2 separate regions of the Homo sapiens genome follow, and region 2 is linked to region 1. Evidence: fine-mapped expression QTL. Tissue or cell type: lung. Region 1 holds a variant in brackets; the other region holds the start of a gene. All regions are shown on one strand. Distances are between the middles of the regions.

Region 1 (8,000 bases):
GGATCTCATTTCCCTCTATGGATGACCATTCCACCAGGCTTGGGCCAGGAGCTGTCCACCAGAATCAATCGTAACCACCATTATAAGAACAGCTTGTGTTTCCAGAGCACATCCCAGTTTACAAAGCATTTCCCATACATGGGCTCTGATTCCTACTCAACAACCTCTTACTGAAGAGCTCAAAGAGAAAGAGGTTGGACCACATCATCCCCAATGGACAGGTAATGAAACTGAGAATGAAACTTCAGAGAGATTAGGTGGCTTTCCAAGGTCACGCAGCTGGTAAATGTGAGCCAGTTCTCTGACTCCCAATAGCAGCCTCTTGCATGGATTCATACCTTCAGGTCTAAGGCCACGGTGGGGACAGAAACTACAGAGCTCCATGTGCACTCCTCTGCCAGGACAGGGAAGTGTGCCACCCACTTCCAGCCCTCCACATGGCCTCAGCTCTGCCACGCTGGCCAGAAGCCTGAGAACCAGGTGCTGGGTGAGCCATGGCACCCGGCCCTCTAAACGGTGAAGGAGCTGTGACGACTAGAATTGCAGGCAATACTGACATTGTTCTACAGAGGAGAGAAAATGTCAGTGAGTACACTGTCCAGTGCCCCCCAATTCCTGGGGCCACAGAGAGGGGAATGGGCTGACTGGGGCCTTCAAACTTTATTTTTATTTACAAAAACAGGCAGCCCATAGTCCATGGTTTACAGAATTTGATTTAAAAAAAAAACTACATTCATATATTACTTACCTTGATTAATCTTTAGTGCCCCCTTAAACTTTGCTCCAAGTGGCTGCCTCCTTCTTCTTACCCTAGTCCCTGTTCCTCCCTTTTCCCACAAACTGGAATCCTGGTGAGATGGGAGGAAGTCCTGGAGACGGCAGAGAAGGCAGCAGTGGTCCACAGGCCCTTTCCTTGCTCTGCTGGGTCTGCTAGGAATTCGTCCAGACCTGCTCACACTGAGGGTGAGTGCCCCAGGAAGCCCTGCTGCCTAACCACTGAGACGCCTGCGACTCTTGGCCATGATACGTCATGTCAGGTTACTGAACATCGCCCCAGCACACGTGCCTGAATATCAGCTTTTCTAAGCTGCTTAGAACATTGGCCCTCCAAGTCTATGGGAGTAGGCAAGGACTACACACCAGCAATAGATGGGCCAGACAAGGTATTGGCAAGCAGAAGAATGATTTAGGGATCAATTTTCCCAGAGGAGGGTGCCTGGGAATCTGTTTCAAATGAAAAGAGAGATACAGAAGAAATGACAATACTAATAACTACCACGGGCTTTAAACACCTTATCTCATCTATCTCACAACGATCATGTGAGGTGAGTACCACCATCCCCACTTACGGGACGAACACACAGAGGCCATAACTGGGAGGTTATGTAGTTTGTTCAGTGTCAGAGGTGGAATTCAAATCCAGACCTGTCTGAATCCAACACTCAACTGCTTCAGGAAAAAAATCCAGCCAGGCACGGTGGCTCACACCTGTAATCCCAGCACTTTGGGAGGCGAGGTGGGCGGAGCATTTGAGGTCAGGAGTTCGAAACCAGCCTGGCCAACATGGTGAAACCCCGTCTCTACTAAAAATACAAAAAAAACAAAAAAATTAGCTGGCTGTGGTGGTGTGTGCCTATAATCCCAGCTACTCGGGAGGCTGAGGCATGAGAATCGCTTGAACCCAAGACGTGGAGATTGCAGTGAGCCGAGATCACACCATTGCACTCCAGCCTGGGTGACAGAGCAAGACTCTGTCTCAAAAAAAAAAAAAAAAACAGAAACAGAAAAAGAAAAAAGAAAAAAAGTACCTCAGAGGCAGAAGGACAACGTGCAGAGGACACGGCGTGTGGCCCCAGCATTTACCTTTGGTGGTTACTTAATCTTTCTGCATCCCAATTTCCATGCCCCCCAAAAAACAAATGTGTGCTGATAAATAAATATGGCACAATAACAACAACTGTTGAAACTAGGGGCAGGGGCTGTGGCATGGGTGTTCACTTCAGCATACTTTTGACTTTTCTATACTTTTGGAAATATTCATAATAAATTTGGAAAACAACAAAATGTCCCCAGGTCAAAACTGATATATGACCCCATCAAAGAAAGTCCCTGGCATCAAAATAGCTGAATAAAAATAGCTACATTAAACAGCTGCACCAACCCTCCACAGCATTGTGGGAATATAAATTGGTTCAGCCTTTTTAGAGGGCAACTTGCAACATCCATCAAACTTTGAAACAAGGCGCACTGTTTTCTTAAACTTTTTATTTTAAAGAAATAGCAATCACACAAGAAAGTTGCATGAATGGAACCAGAAACCCCCATATTCCTTTTACCCTGATTCACCAATTTTTAACATTTTGCCACATTTGCTTTTTCATCTTCTCTTTCCTCACCACATATATTTTATGGTACAATAGGATATATCATAATATGATATTACATATATATTTTATTATATACACATTTATTATATTATATACACACATTCATCTGTTTATTTTCCTCCTTGAGCCACCTGAGAGCAGGTAGCATACATCATGGCCATTTACTCCTTAATTCCTCAATATTTGTTTCCTAAGAACAAGAATATTCTCTTATTTGACCACAATGCAGTTACAAATTTGGAAATATTAACATTTTGTTATAATACTTTCATCTAAGGAGACCCACTCCCTGAATTTTGGAAGGCTATATTCCAATTTTGTTTGTTGTCCAAATCATATCCTTTAAAGCAATTTCTTAGTATAGGGTTTGTTACATTAACTTGTCATGAATCTTAAGTATTCTTTAATCTAGGATAGCTCTTTTTAAAAATTGCTCAAAATAAGCTTGTTAATTTATTTAAAGAGGCTGCTTCCCTGATGCAGAAGTTTAGAGACTGGGACTCTCGATCCAGGCACAACTGAATTTAGTTGTTTTGAGGTGAGGTCTGAGGGTCTGCATTTCTAACAAACTCCCATGGGAACCCAAGCCCTGGCCCAAAGGCCACACACCGAGTGGTGACACCAAAGAAGACCGTCTGTGAAGAGCTGGTCCAGACCACCACAAGATGCACTTGCTTTCCTCTGAATGAAGCTTCGTCTGCAATGGCAACTGGACCCTGGGACTTGGGACGCAACAAGATGCAGAGCCTTCCCTCACAGGAACTCCTCCTGGGCTTTCTAGAGCCAGGAAGTCCAAGACAGAGAGGCACAAGTCACTGAAGAAGGCTTTTCTGCAGGTTCCCCATTTCGGATGATTCTGGCCCAGGACAGGGAAGCCTGTTGAGAAGAGAATTCCTATGCCCTGCCTTTTCTATCAGCATCAATCCACTATACCTTCAATAGGTACCTCCTCCTCCAGGAAGCCATCCTGGTTACCATAGCCCACTCTAAACTAACTGTCCCCTGACCTCCTACATCACCGAGCCCCTGGCTATATCACGGAGCACTTACTTGAATGTAATTGCTATTTCAGGTACCTTTTCTTTCCCTTCTCCTTGCTTCTGCTTCTGCTACTTCTCACTCATGATATGCATCCTCATCACTCTCCCCTCTACATGTTCAAGGCCCAGCTTATCCATAAGTATACCCTAGCAAAAAGTCTCTTCAATGACAGATTCCTTGCCTGAACCATCTTCAGGTATCTCCATCCAGCAACAGGTATATCAGTCTGATCTCCACAACCAGACATTCAGGTTTCCTATGCTTCCATTGCTTCTGTTTGCCACAAGTCCCTGGTTTTCTTGCCACGGTGGCATGCGCATCAGCCTCTCCCTGAGTGATCCTGGGCAGTGTGACAGGAGTTCAGTCCATCCATCCATCATTTACTAAGTGCCTACTCTGTGCCAGGCCCCGGGGTAGACTCTGGGGGCCCTCAGGGAGTCTCAGACAGTGGGGGTGCCTGCTTTTCTCAGAGCCAGAAGTGATGCAGCGTCAGCATCAGCTGCATCTTTGCTTTTGAGCATAAAAGGTGCTTGTGGGAAGTGACACAGGGCCCAGCTGATGGGCCCTGATGGTACCACTGCAGCCTTTGCATCCTTGTCATGTGTCACCTCCCCCATGATTACTGTGATCACTGATTGTCATCATGCAAATAACAGCAAACATGGCTGAAGTGCCTACATCATCCCCAGTGTTGGAAAGCCTGTAGAATCCTGAGACTGTCATTGAAAGCTAAGAAATGAGCCAAAGGCATTCTCTATGGCTTGAATGCAACAAGAACCAGAAAAGCTGGAAACCTCTTGGGAGTCAGAGCAGCTGAGAAAAAGGTGATGAACAGCCTCGGACACTCACAGTGTCCTATCAAATGGGCCCAGTCCTGAGAGTCCAGGGCTGGGCTAGGGGGTGCTTCCTCTGCATGGTTTCAGACCACCATTCACAGGACAATCTGTGCAGAAAAATTATACTTTTCTTCTCTAAAAGAAAGCCCCAAACCAAAAGATACCTGTCCCTGGAGAAGCAGGACCCTTGGGAATTTCTAGCTGATTTCTGCTGCCACCAC[C/G]ATGGAGGTACAGCTGCTCCTGCAATGCCAAGTAGAGGCAGGAGAATGCCCTTCCTTTCTACTGAGCAGTGTGATGGAGATGAGATTGGAACTGGAGGGAATGTATGGGAAATAAACACAGAGTAGCACAATCCCAGGTCATGTGAATTATGGCTTCCTGCTGAGGCGCACACACTCCCCTAACAAAAGCCCACTTTCTGAGGTCCTGGCCCCTGTTTGGGGGCATATTTCTTCCCTGATCATAAACCACCATCCATGTTGAGAAGATCATGGCCCACTCTTCCCCACTTCCAGGAATGAGACCCACCCAGCACAGGTACAAATTATGTCTTCTCGGCACAACAGGGCAACCCAAATTGTCTGGAAATAGTGTGAGTGGGGTCACTCTGTCACCTCCAGACAACCGTCCATGTTGAAAGCAGACCCAAAACAGAAAACCCAACAAAAAAAATGGACAAATATCTAAACATCCATTTCATCGGAGAATATATATGAGTGGCTAATAAACACATGAAAGACACATCAGGGAAATGCAAACGAAAACAAACAATGAGATGCCATGAGACACCCACCAGGGTGGTTAAAATTTAAAGACTGAAAATACCAACTGCTGGTGAGGATGTGGAACAACTGGGGGTCTCATACACTGCTGGAGGAAATGCAAGACACTTCAGCCACTTTGGAAAACAGACTGGCAGTATCTTACCAAGTTAACCTTACACTTACCATATTATCCAGGTATTTCCCCAAACAAAATGAACACCTATTTTTCATTTTGTGTTCACATAAAGACATGTACTCAAATATTCACAGTAGCTTTAATTATAAAAGCCAAAAACTATAAGCAAATGTCCACCAACTGTGAAATGGATAAACCAATTGTGAGATATCTATGCAATGGAATGCTACTCAGCAATAAAAAGAAAGTATAACACATGCCACAAAATGGATGAATCTCAAATACTCATGCTAAGTGAAAGAAGTCAAACAAATAAAGAGCACATACTCTATGATTCCATTTCTATGAGCTTTTAGAAAAGCAAAACAATAGAACCAGAAATTTTATCAGTGGTTGCCAAGGGTCAGCAGTGAAGGGAGGCACATGACCATGAAGGGACATGAGGGTGATGAGAACGATCTACATCAGGTGTGTAGGGTGGCTACATGACCACACTCATTTGTGAAACCTCACGGAATTGTACATCTAAAACCTATTATATGTAAATTATGCTTCAAGAAAGCCTATTTTTTTTCCAAAAATGGACCCCAACTCAAGTAACTATTTTCACATCCCTTGAAGTCAGGGCAGACATTCAGCGAGTAGGCACTGGCATAGCCGTCCGTACTTGTTAAAATCCTGAAATGCTTCCACACCTACTGGCAAGTCACTCCTGCCCAAGGCTTCTGAGTTACTCCTGTGCTCTCGTCCTTATCTGGGTCCTTCTGGATCTCCCTAGGATATCCAACAGCAGGGCTAATACCTGCTCAATAGGGGGCCTCCTGGACCAGCTAAGGTGGACATCCTTTCCGACTGTTTAGGGCCATACTGGGTAAAACTGATTTGGAAAAGATAGATGGTGCAAAGCTGAGCTCTAACTCGGCTGAGGGCCCACTAAGTCGCTGCCAGGTTTATTGTGTTTAGATCATGCATTCTCAGCAAAGGTGAAAACTGATTCCTGGCAAGGAGGAAGACTAAAAAGTCTTAGATCTTATAACGGTTTGTGGCCCACCAAAGGGCCTCAGTACATGAACAGATGTCCACAATATCTGTGCTATTAACATTCACAGGGTGTGGGGTGGTCAGGAAAAAAAAAAAGTCTTAAAAAGGCTTCTTAGGCCGGGCGCATTGGCTTATGCCTGTAATCCCAGCACTTTGGAAGGCAGAGGCAGGTGGATCACCTGAGGTCAGGAGTTCAAGACCAGCCTGGCCAACATGGTGAAACCCCGTCTCTACTAAAAATACAAAAATTAGCCAGCCATGGTGGTGCTCGCCTATAATTCCAGCTACTCGGGAGGCTGAAGCCGGAGGATTGCTTGAACTTGGGAGGCAGAGTTTGCGGTGAGCTGAGATCGCACCATTGCACTCCAGCCTGGGGACAGAGCAAGACAGAAAAAAAAAAAAAAAAAAAAACCTTCTTAGTAGGGGCAACTATGAGAATAAGGAATAAGGTTGAGAAATGCTGGTTTAGCTGCAAGAACTCTGTGATAGTGAGAACCTGGACACCACAGCCCCAGCCCCCAGACCTGAGAGTGGAATTCTCACCTGGGAGGCTAACCTGTGCAGAGGGTGTTGTGGGCATGTCTAGGTGGGAAGTGAGAGATCAGCTGGGAATGTGGGAAAGGGGGAGGGGCCACACGAGCCCTCACAGTCCTTTATGGGACTCCCCTTCTGGGGAAAAGCAGTCGCTCACTCTCCCTCCTATGAAAGTCTTTAACCCAACTCAACTCAGCAAATACTCAGGAGGACCCCTGAGAACCAGTACCCTGCTAGGCTTAGGCTAAATATATAGAGAGAGATGGCTGCAACTAGGACTGCACACTCAAGCCTAGCAGAGAGACACATAGAAACCCAAAGACTCCCACCCTTTGCTCCCAACATCTTATCTTTCCATTCCTATCTGGAGTCCACGATGGCAGAACTGCACCCAAAACATTCGGAGTTTTCAGCTGGTGTAAGTAATGAAGACAACTTCTAAATTAGTAAGTGCTATAGCTGAGTCCCCGGCTTTGTCAAGCTCAGCTGAACCAGAGCCTCCTTGGAAACACTTGCTTTGTACGCTGATACATTATGACAATACTATAATTGTTCTCTCAGTCTTTTCCCAGATATTTAATAACAACGTGAAGTGGGAGTTGCAAAGGTCAGTCCTCCTGTAGAATGAGCGTTGTTCTCATTGTCCTTTCCTGAATAGCGTCTTCCATTTGCCAGGCTGTTCTATGCCAGTGAGCCCTGGTGGTGGAGGCCTGGTGCTGTTAAAGAAGCAGCACCACCTACTCAGGGCAGAATATTCTAATTTGCTAAATGGTCCAGTGTCACTGTCTGTCTACATCATCTGCATAAATACACACACACACACACACACACACACACACACACTCCTCCTGTGCTACCCACGCTTCAAGCCCGTGAATGGAAAGAATGTTAATTGCCAAAAACCAGAGAAACCAGGTGATATACATATTTGCATACTCACTTGGGCAGTTACTCTTGTGCTCTGGTTAGGTGAGAAGATTTATCTCCTAGGACCTCAGATCAACAGAGTCACATACCTATGTTAAAACTTCCATTATGTTGAAAGCTCACAATAGTTGACAAATGGGTCTCTCTTAGCAGGATGCAGTATGTGAGCAAGGACTAGGAAGCAGCAGTGCCCTGAGCTCTCATCTCTCCTTGGCATGTTCCAATTGCCTGCCTGATCTTGTGGTAGTCATTCCTCCTTAGTGAACCTCAGCTGCCACATCCATTAAATGGACCTAATTCGCTGCCTGTCCAAAGACAGGACTCTCTTCCAATG
Region 2 (8,139 bases), 780 kb after region 1:
CTATTTGCATTTTCTCCTATCCAGTTCCTCCTGCCCACATCACCCACTGCAGACACTCTTGCCAAGTTCCTCAATGCCAGCGTTGCCAGCCTGGTGGCCACTCCTCAGGCCTTCTCTTGCCTCCCCAGCAGCCTGGCCATGTGCCCGCCCTCCTCCATTTTGAAAGAGTACCCTCAGCTCTATCAACACCTCCTCCCCTGGTTTACTTTCCTCCACTCTGGCTCCGTCCCTTGTGCCACCTTGATATTGCTGTGGCCCATCCTGGACCTACTTCTCATCAACACAGTCTCCCTAGGAGACTCATCCCTTCTTGAGGCTTAACCACCACCTCCACGTGGGATTTCCAAGCCCATATCTCTAGCCCAGTGTCCACCCTGAGTGCTGGACCCATATACCCATCTGACTCCTGAAGATCTTTACTTGGGTATAGTCTGGGAAATTTGAATTTCAAATGTGACCAGGATACTCACTGGCTTCCTTCAATAGTGACTGCTCCTTCTGGGCCCCCTCTGTCAGGAGTGGGCATCACCAACGCTAGTTGCCCAAGCCAGATCCTGGGAGTCATCACTAACATCTCTCCTCTCACTGATATGTGGGTGCCACCTCGCTTTGACATTTCTTAAGCTTTTCTCTCCTTCCTACCACCATCCCACTGCTGCCATGCCAGCTTTTATCATAGCTCCTGGGATTCCTTCCACAGACTACCTAATTCCACTCTGGCTGCCAGAGAGGTCCATGTGAAATGCAAATTAGCCCAGGTCACCCTTGGTTAGAAGCCTTTAACGGCTCCCCATTGTGCTGGGGAGAAAACCTAAACTCCCAGCCTCTTTGCTTCACACACACATACCCACTGCGCTTGGTCTTGAGCTCCAGCCAGACTGAAACCATGGAGTAGGTTTACCCTCTTTACCCTAATCCTCTCAATCCTACTAGTTCTTAGGGCTCAGCTTGACAGTCGCCTCCTCCTAGAAGTCTTCCTGCTGTCCAAGGTGCATTAGGGCTCCACTTCTATGCTCCCATAGCAGCTGTGCACAATAGCTTTCTTCCTACATCACAGCCACACTTTCTCTTCTTGTTTCCCACCCTGAGACCATAGAGTCTTTGAGGTCAGGAGATGTTCTTGTGGTTTAGCTTTTTTTAAAATTTATTTATTTATTTATTTATTTATTTATTTATTTATTTATTTATTTGAGACAGAGTCTTGCTCTGTAGCCCAGGCTGGAGTGCACTGGCACGACCTTGGCTCACTGCAGCCTCTGCCTCCCAGGTTCAAGCAATTCTCCTGCTTCAGCCTCCCAAGCAGCTGGGACTACAGACACCTGCCACCATGCCTGGCTAATTTTGTATTTTTAGTAGAGAAGGGGTTTCACCATGTTGGCCGGGATGGTCTCAATCTCCTGACCTCAAGTGATCCGCCCGCCTCAGCCTCCTCAAGTGCTGGGATTAGAGGCATGAGCCACCGTGCCCAGCCTATTTTTTGTATTTTTTCAGTGCTAGGAAATATTTACTGAAATTTAAGGATGGAAAGTCTGGGAGACCGACTCTAGGAGTGCTCTTGAAAGGAAATGGGTTACTCCATGTGTAGGTGTTGAAAATGTAAAACACAATATTATTTCTCCCTTTTTCCCTAATAAAACCCCAATTTTGTTCAGAGGACAGCAATAGTGTTAATTACACTTCTTAGCATCCTTTGCAGGGGGTAGCTATGTGACCCAGGTTTGGCCAAGAAGACTTAAGTAAAAGCAACTGTGCACGCAAGGGAGAGATTTGCTCCCTTGATGTAAGCATGGCCCCTTCCTGTTTCCTGTCTTCCACATCTTTCCTGGAATTAGGAGAGGAGGCTGGAGATGGAGCAGCCATCTTGTGACAATGAGCCAGCCACAGGGATGGGAACCACAGGCTAAGGAATCTTGAAGGGCCTAGGTCATGACCCCTGGACTACCTACTAGCAGACTTCTAATTATTGAGAGACAAATAAATCTCATTTAAGTCATTTTGGTTGGCTCTCCATTACATTTAGCTGAACTCCACCCAGTAAAGGTCAATGAAGGAAGATAAGCATCTGTGAGCATTTCTGAATAGGCTTTTCCTTTGGAGATGATGCTGGCGCTGACGGGAGGCAGAGGGCCAGGTTAATGGAACAGGACTAGGTGAGGGCTGGAGAGGCTGATCCTCCCAGGGGTTCTACCAGAGGATCACAGTGAGGCCTCAGGGTTTGAGAAAGAAGCTCCAGGCATGGTAGCCCTAAGGTGTCTGTGACCTTGGCCTGGGGGTTTTCTGGTCCCTGTTTGGTTCAACTTGCAAAATGGGGCTGTTGGACTAGACAACTTATCAGAAGGCATAGTGCTTCAAGTCTGGGCTTAGGAGTCAGACAAGGCTGAATTCAGGGTCCAGCTCCACCACTTGCTAGCTGTGTGGCTTTCAGACAGCTTTCTTAGCCGACTGCTCTAGCATCCTTGTTTGTGGAGTCCAGACTCCATCAGTACCTATACCTGTAGGGCTAACGTTGGGGCTTCATGAAATCATGCATGTGGGTGCTCAGCAGAGGGCCTGGTATGCCCAGCACACACCAAGTGCTCCATGCTGGTACCTGTCCTTGTGTGCCATGTTCTCCCAGTGGACAGATGGGACCTGGAATTCATGCCTCCTCTGGGGCTGGGGCTGGGGCTGCTACAGTGCTGTGGAAAGCCTGTCAGGATGTACCTCGCTCTGTGGCTGAGTGAAGAGGCCAGAGGCTGCCCACTGTTCAACATCTTTGGAATGCTGCCGTGTCCAGGGAACTTGGGTCGCAGGTGGATAGAAGCCCCCAAGCCCAGGCCAGGCCAGACCAGGCCCAGAAAGGTATCAGGTCTTGGGTAGAATAAGAAGCCTATGTGGTCTATCTATCCTGTGGCCTTTGTCTTAGCCAAAGCCTCCTGGATATTGACGGCATCTTTTCCTGGGTTTGGGGTGGGCTTGGAGAGGTTCCCTCTGCACGGGACTACAGAAGTGAGGGAGCTGGAAAAATGCCTCCAGAGCTGGATTCCTCACTGCAGCTGCTTTTGGAAGAACCTTCTTATCCTTCCCTTGAGAAGCCTCACTGTCTCTTCTCGGCGCTTGGAATCCTGTTAGTAGAAAATCTTGGGGAAAAAATAAACCCACTATTCATTCCAGCACTGAGAAGGAGGTCAGTGGGGTGCGTCCTGTTTGTCCACACCCCCCCCACCCCCTCTACCCCTCCCCCCAGCACCCCAGGCCAGACCCAGCCATGCTGACACTTGACAGCCCCTGCAGTTTACCTTGGCTCAGGTCCAGAGACTTCGGGCCCAGCCCCCACCTTTTCACCTTGTTACCCAGCCCCCTCTCCAGCGCAAAGAGCAGTTTAAATATAAATCAGTCCTCAACACAAACAGAGCTGCAGCGAGTCTCAGAGCCATCACCGGAACTGAGGGCCCAGGTTTTCTGCGAGTGCAAACAAGCAGAGACTGGCTCCGTAAATCTCCCCAAGAACGTCGGGAGGGGTGCTGGGGCTCCCCTCCACCCCCGGCTCACGTTGGCCCCTCCAGCGCCCGCCTCGGGCACCCTCATATCCCAGCCTTCCTGCCCCCCAGCCCTGCCAACCTCTTTCTCCATCCCCTCCACTCACCCACCTTCGCTTCGCCCACCCTCTCTTCGCCAGTCCCCAGGAACCTCCACCCCCTTGCAACCTCCTGCCCCCGCACAGCCCTCACCTCCCCTCCCCGGGCCCGCCACCTCCTTCCCTCCCTCTCCGCCTCCCGGCAGGCGGGATCTTCTCGGGGCAGTCAAGCCTCGCGGGTCGCTGCGGCGTCACACCTGTCTGAGGGGGCGGCGGCGGCGGCGGCGGCGGGGCGGGGGCTCGTAGCGCCTTTGACACCCGAGGAAAAGAGGGAGGAGGGAGAGCGCGTTTCATCATCGGCGGCGGCCACTTATAAAAACTTCTAGGCGCGCACTCGCTGGCTCAGTCTCCGCTCCGCGAATCTCCTCCGGCCACTGCCGCCGCGGTCGCCTCTCACCCGCCCGGCCGCTCCAGCCCGAGGCGCCCCGACCCCGCGCCACTCCGCGCCCGGCCAGCCGCCCGCAGCCATGGGGCTCCTGCCCAAGCTCGGCGCGTCCCAGGGCAGCGACACCTCTACTAGCCGAGCCGGCCGCTGTGCCCGCTCGGTCTTCGGCAACATTAAGGTGAGCGGAGTCCGCGGGGTCTTCCGGGCCGGAGCCGCGCCTGGCGCACCTTCGGCTGGGCACCCGCTTCTGTCTGCCGGAGCCAGGAGGCTCCGGGAGCCCCGGGCTCCCTCCTGTGCCGCGCTCCGATCTCATCCCCGGGCGACGCGTGCTGGGCGTGTGTGTGCGAGTGTGTGTGTGAGCGTGTGTGTGTGTGAGCGTGTGTGTGTGCGTGCGAGTGTGTGTGTGTGTGTTCACACGCCTTCATCGGACTAAGTAATGGGACAGTGGAAGTACCTGCTTACCGCTTACTCGGACAACTCCAGGCAGAGTTATAAGCGAGAGAATTGTCCTCGATGATTGAAAAAGATCATCTCGAGGAACGCTTTTTCGGCCTCCAGCGGGCGGTTACTTCGTCAATGGGATGGGCTTGGAGGTGCCAGGGGGACCCCCCGCGCTTTGGGGGACAGACTGTGTCTCGTCCGAGCCCCCTCGTCCTGGGGTGGGTGGCCTAAGGGATGTTCTCCTTCCCCAGGCTTTCTTCTCCCGCCAACGGGGGCGGGGGGCTCTGCTACCTGGCTGTGCCGCTCGCAGTTATGTTTAGAATTCCCTCTCAGCGGGCGGCTTCCCCAGGCTGGCAACCAACCCGCGTGCTCAGATTGGCTTCCCTGGTCTGGAAATGGCCCCAGGAAGGTCACAGCTCTCACGGTTCAGTAAGGTCTAAGCAGGTCCACTCACCAGGCAAGTTATGGGGAGCGGGTGAGAAGATAGGGTGTTGGCAGCTGTTAGGATGAGAGCACCTTTCCCATGGGGTCGGAAATGCTTTCCACTCCCTCACAGGTCCAGGAGGACCTGGAATGGTTCAATCCGCACTCGGGCTCTTTTGCCCGTTCTGCCTAGGCAGAAGTAACAATGGAAGATACCTCCTGAGAGGCCAAAGCTGCTGCGGTGAGGATGTGGGAGACTGCAGAGACTGCATCAAGGCCCCTTCTGGTCAGGGTGGGATCATGGTGTAGAGAGGTTGTTTCCCACAAACATACAGTCAGATGGGACTGAGTAAAGCCTCCGGTGGTGCAATTAAGGGGAAGCCAGATTACACAAAGGGATGATGGGGGTGTCCGTGGACTGGTTATATGTGTCCAACAGAAAGGGATCTGGAGGTCAGAGTGGATCTCACCTGCATACTTACTCAGCTGGGATCTCCACTCCTGCTTCTGCTCTTTCCGCACCGCAATAAATACAGGCTGAATTGATTTTGTAGTTGTATATGGATAAGCAACAGAAATTTTGAGATAGCTTAAAATAATCTCCAAATCTCCTCATTTTTGGCCAGACCTGGATGGAAATGTTGTGCGCAGTTTTGGTTCCACCATTTTGGAGAAATTTCATCAGGAATTTTGGAACCTTTGGTATTTATAAATTAGGAATTGAGATGAAAGGGTAGGGACTAGGATTAGATGGTGTAAAGAAAGGGGCCTCTGCAGGAACCAGGGTGGGGCAACCTCACTTCATTTTCACCAAGAAGGGCAGGAGGGACGGGTGTCCAGAACAGATTCCTGACAGTGAGGGTACAGCTGAATGAGACTGATCCGTTTAGACCCACCCTGGTTCCCTAAAATAAATGTTTATGGCAGCAATTTATTTGGAGATCTATATAAATAAGATGATTTCTCATGTGTTGATGATTTAACCACACGTACCTGAGGGCTGGGCTCAGGCCAATTGGCCTCCTAAAGGAGTTAAGTACTCATACTGGCTAAGAGTTTTTCTTGACTCTAAAAATGAGATTCTGTTAGTCATCACCTCCTTTGATCCATACTAATTGCAAGACCAGAGTTTGGAGGACTTCCATTTAACTCCACTTATCAGCCTGAAACCAGGTACGAGGTTGGATAGCTTAAGGTAAATCTTGAATCTCAAATTCCATCAGTTAAAGTCACTTGCACCTTTCCCTCCTGGGGCAATAACTGGGAGCTCTGCTATTTGAAGGGATATTTCCTCCCAATGAGAGTGCTTGTAATAGCCCTGCCACTTTGCAGTGGGGGATGGGTTGCACATATCTTGGGACATGTATGACATGGTGGTGTAGCAGGACGAGCCACAGACAAAACTCCTCAGACACTGAGTTAAAGAAGGAAGGGGTTTATTCAGCCGGGGGCATCAGCAAGACTGCTGTCTCAAGAGCTGAGCTCCCCGAGTGAGCAATTCCTGTCCTTTTTAAGGGCTCACAACTCTAAGGGGGTGCACCTGAGAGGGTCGTGATCGATTGAGCAAACAGTGGGTACGTGACTGGGGGCTGCATGCACCAGTAATTAGATCGGAACAAAACAGAATAGGGATTTTCACAGTGCTTTTCTGTACAATGTCTGTAATCTATAGATAACATAACCGATTAGGTCAGGGGTCGATCTTTAACTACCAGCGCTAGGGTGCGGCTCCGGGCTGTCTGCTTGTGGATTTCATTTCTGCCTTTTAGTTTTTACTTTTTCTTTCTTTGGAGGCAGAAATTGGGCATAAGACAATATGAGGGGTGGTCTCCTCCCTTATTCCCCTCCTTTGAGATTCTCACTCAATAGTGGGAGTTCTCACTTTCATTTTTACTACCTGTGTCTTCTTGCAAGACAGATCGATAGTGATTCATATAGTACACTTGTGCTGAACCTTTTTGGTGAACTAAGGTAGCGATGAAGCTTTTTATCATTTGAAGAAGTATAGGTAGCAAACAAGGGAGCAGTAAGCAGGTTCCTATTACTATTATAACTCTTATTATTAGAGTTTTAAATTCTCTTAGCGCTGGGAACCATTTTCTAAACATGGCCCCAGGATCAAATCCATGCCACACTTGCACAGGCACATGTGCCAGTTTTGTCATATCTCTTAACTGTGTCTTCAACTACTTGCCCTTGATTATCTATATGTAGGCAGCAATTAGAAAGGTTAAATTTCCTACAGACCTCTCCTTCAGCTGCTAGCAAGTAGTCAAGAGCTAATCTATTTTGATAGGTAGCATTTCTCATCTGAGTTTCTTGCTGGGCCAGAATAGTCAAGGCTCTGCCGGTTTTATTAGTGATTATTTTTAAGACAGCTTGTAACCGTATGATTCAGTTGATCACGTAAATGGGGGTCTGGTATCCTCACAAGCCGTCTTGTGCCTAGCAGGCCTATAATATTGTATGATTTTCTCAGGGGGCCATTTATCATTTTTTCAATTTCCTATAGCTATGCTTCTCTTTTCGCGGGAAGCATAGACAGGGAAGCCCAGGAGTTCGCCTGTTTTTATGGGCAGTAGGAAAAAGATGGTTTAATAGTGCCAATAACAAAACTACCTGCCTACTGGTCAGGTAATTTGGCGTAAGCTCTATGCCTACGTATCTAGTATAATCCAGTGGGGGCTGTCTAGTCCCGGTGGGACTCCGGGTGGGTCCACACGGTTTGCAACTTTGGGAATTTACTAAATGGATTTCTCTCTGTGTGATTAGAACTCCACCAAATGACTGTTTTTGTGATACCATTATAAGTTTCTGTCCTAGACAAAGAAGTCGTCCTATGGGGTGAGTAAATTCTTTTCCTTCTCTAGCTATGCAATATTGTCCAATAATTGAGGCTTTTAGGACCTAGAAATTATCAGGGTGATTCTTCTGAGCTGGGAATTCATCAGGAACTGGGTCTGTAGGTACTAATTCTCGGGCTTCCCATGGTCATTGATCTCTTATTACAGTTCCTCCACATACATAACATGAAGTGACATTGAGAGAACATGCTCAGCTAATTGCAAAAACAAATTTCTTGTTTTTCCTGGAATTTCTGGTACTGGCACATTTAGTTCATCATAGAAAGTTTGAAACACTGGCTTAGGAGAGCGTTTGTAAACTTCTCTTCAAACCAAGATATTTACTCGAGGATCCAGTCCAGCCCCATTGATTCCTAAGGTCACACGCTCCTCTTTTTTCCAGCGAGGATCAAGGGGATTGGTTATTACTA

Evidence for each region. PIP is the estimated chance that this variant, and not a neighbour inherited with it, causes the effect.
Region 2: SLCO2A1 starts here. The variant in region 1 is fine-mapped to the expression of SLCO2A1 in lung (TOPMed, PIP above 0.99).

The regions. Positions count from the first base shown.
Region 1 is chr3:134,809,859-134,817,858 of GRCh38, reverse strand. The region is part of intron 1 of EPHB1 (EPH receptor B1); the gene reads right to left. Among named protein-coding and RNA genes, the nearest start is that of EPHB1, 19 kb to the right of the region's middle. The variant C/G (reference allele first, on the strand shown) is at 4,486.
Region 2 is chr3:134,025,747-134,033,885 of GRCh38, reverse strand. It overlaps SLCO2A1 (solute carrier organic anion transporter family member 2A1), which reads left to right and starts at 3,961. Exons shown (of 14, transcript NM_005630.3): 1 at 3,961-4,179. The coding sequence starts at 4,084. RefSeq lists an enhancer at 3,466-3,966.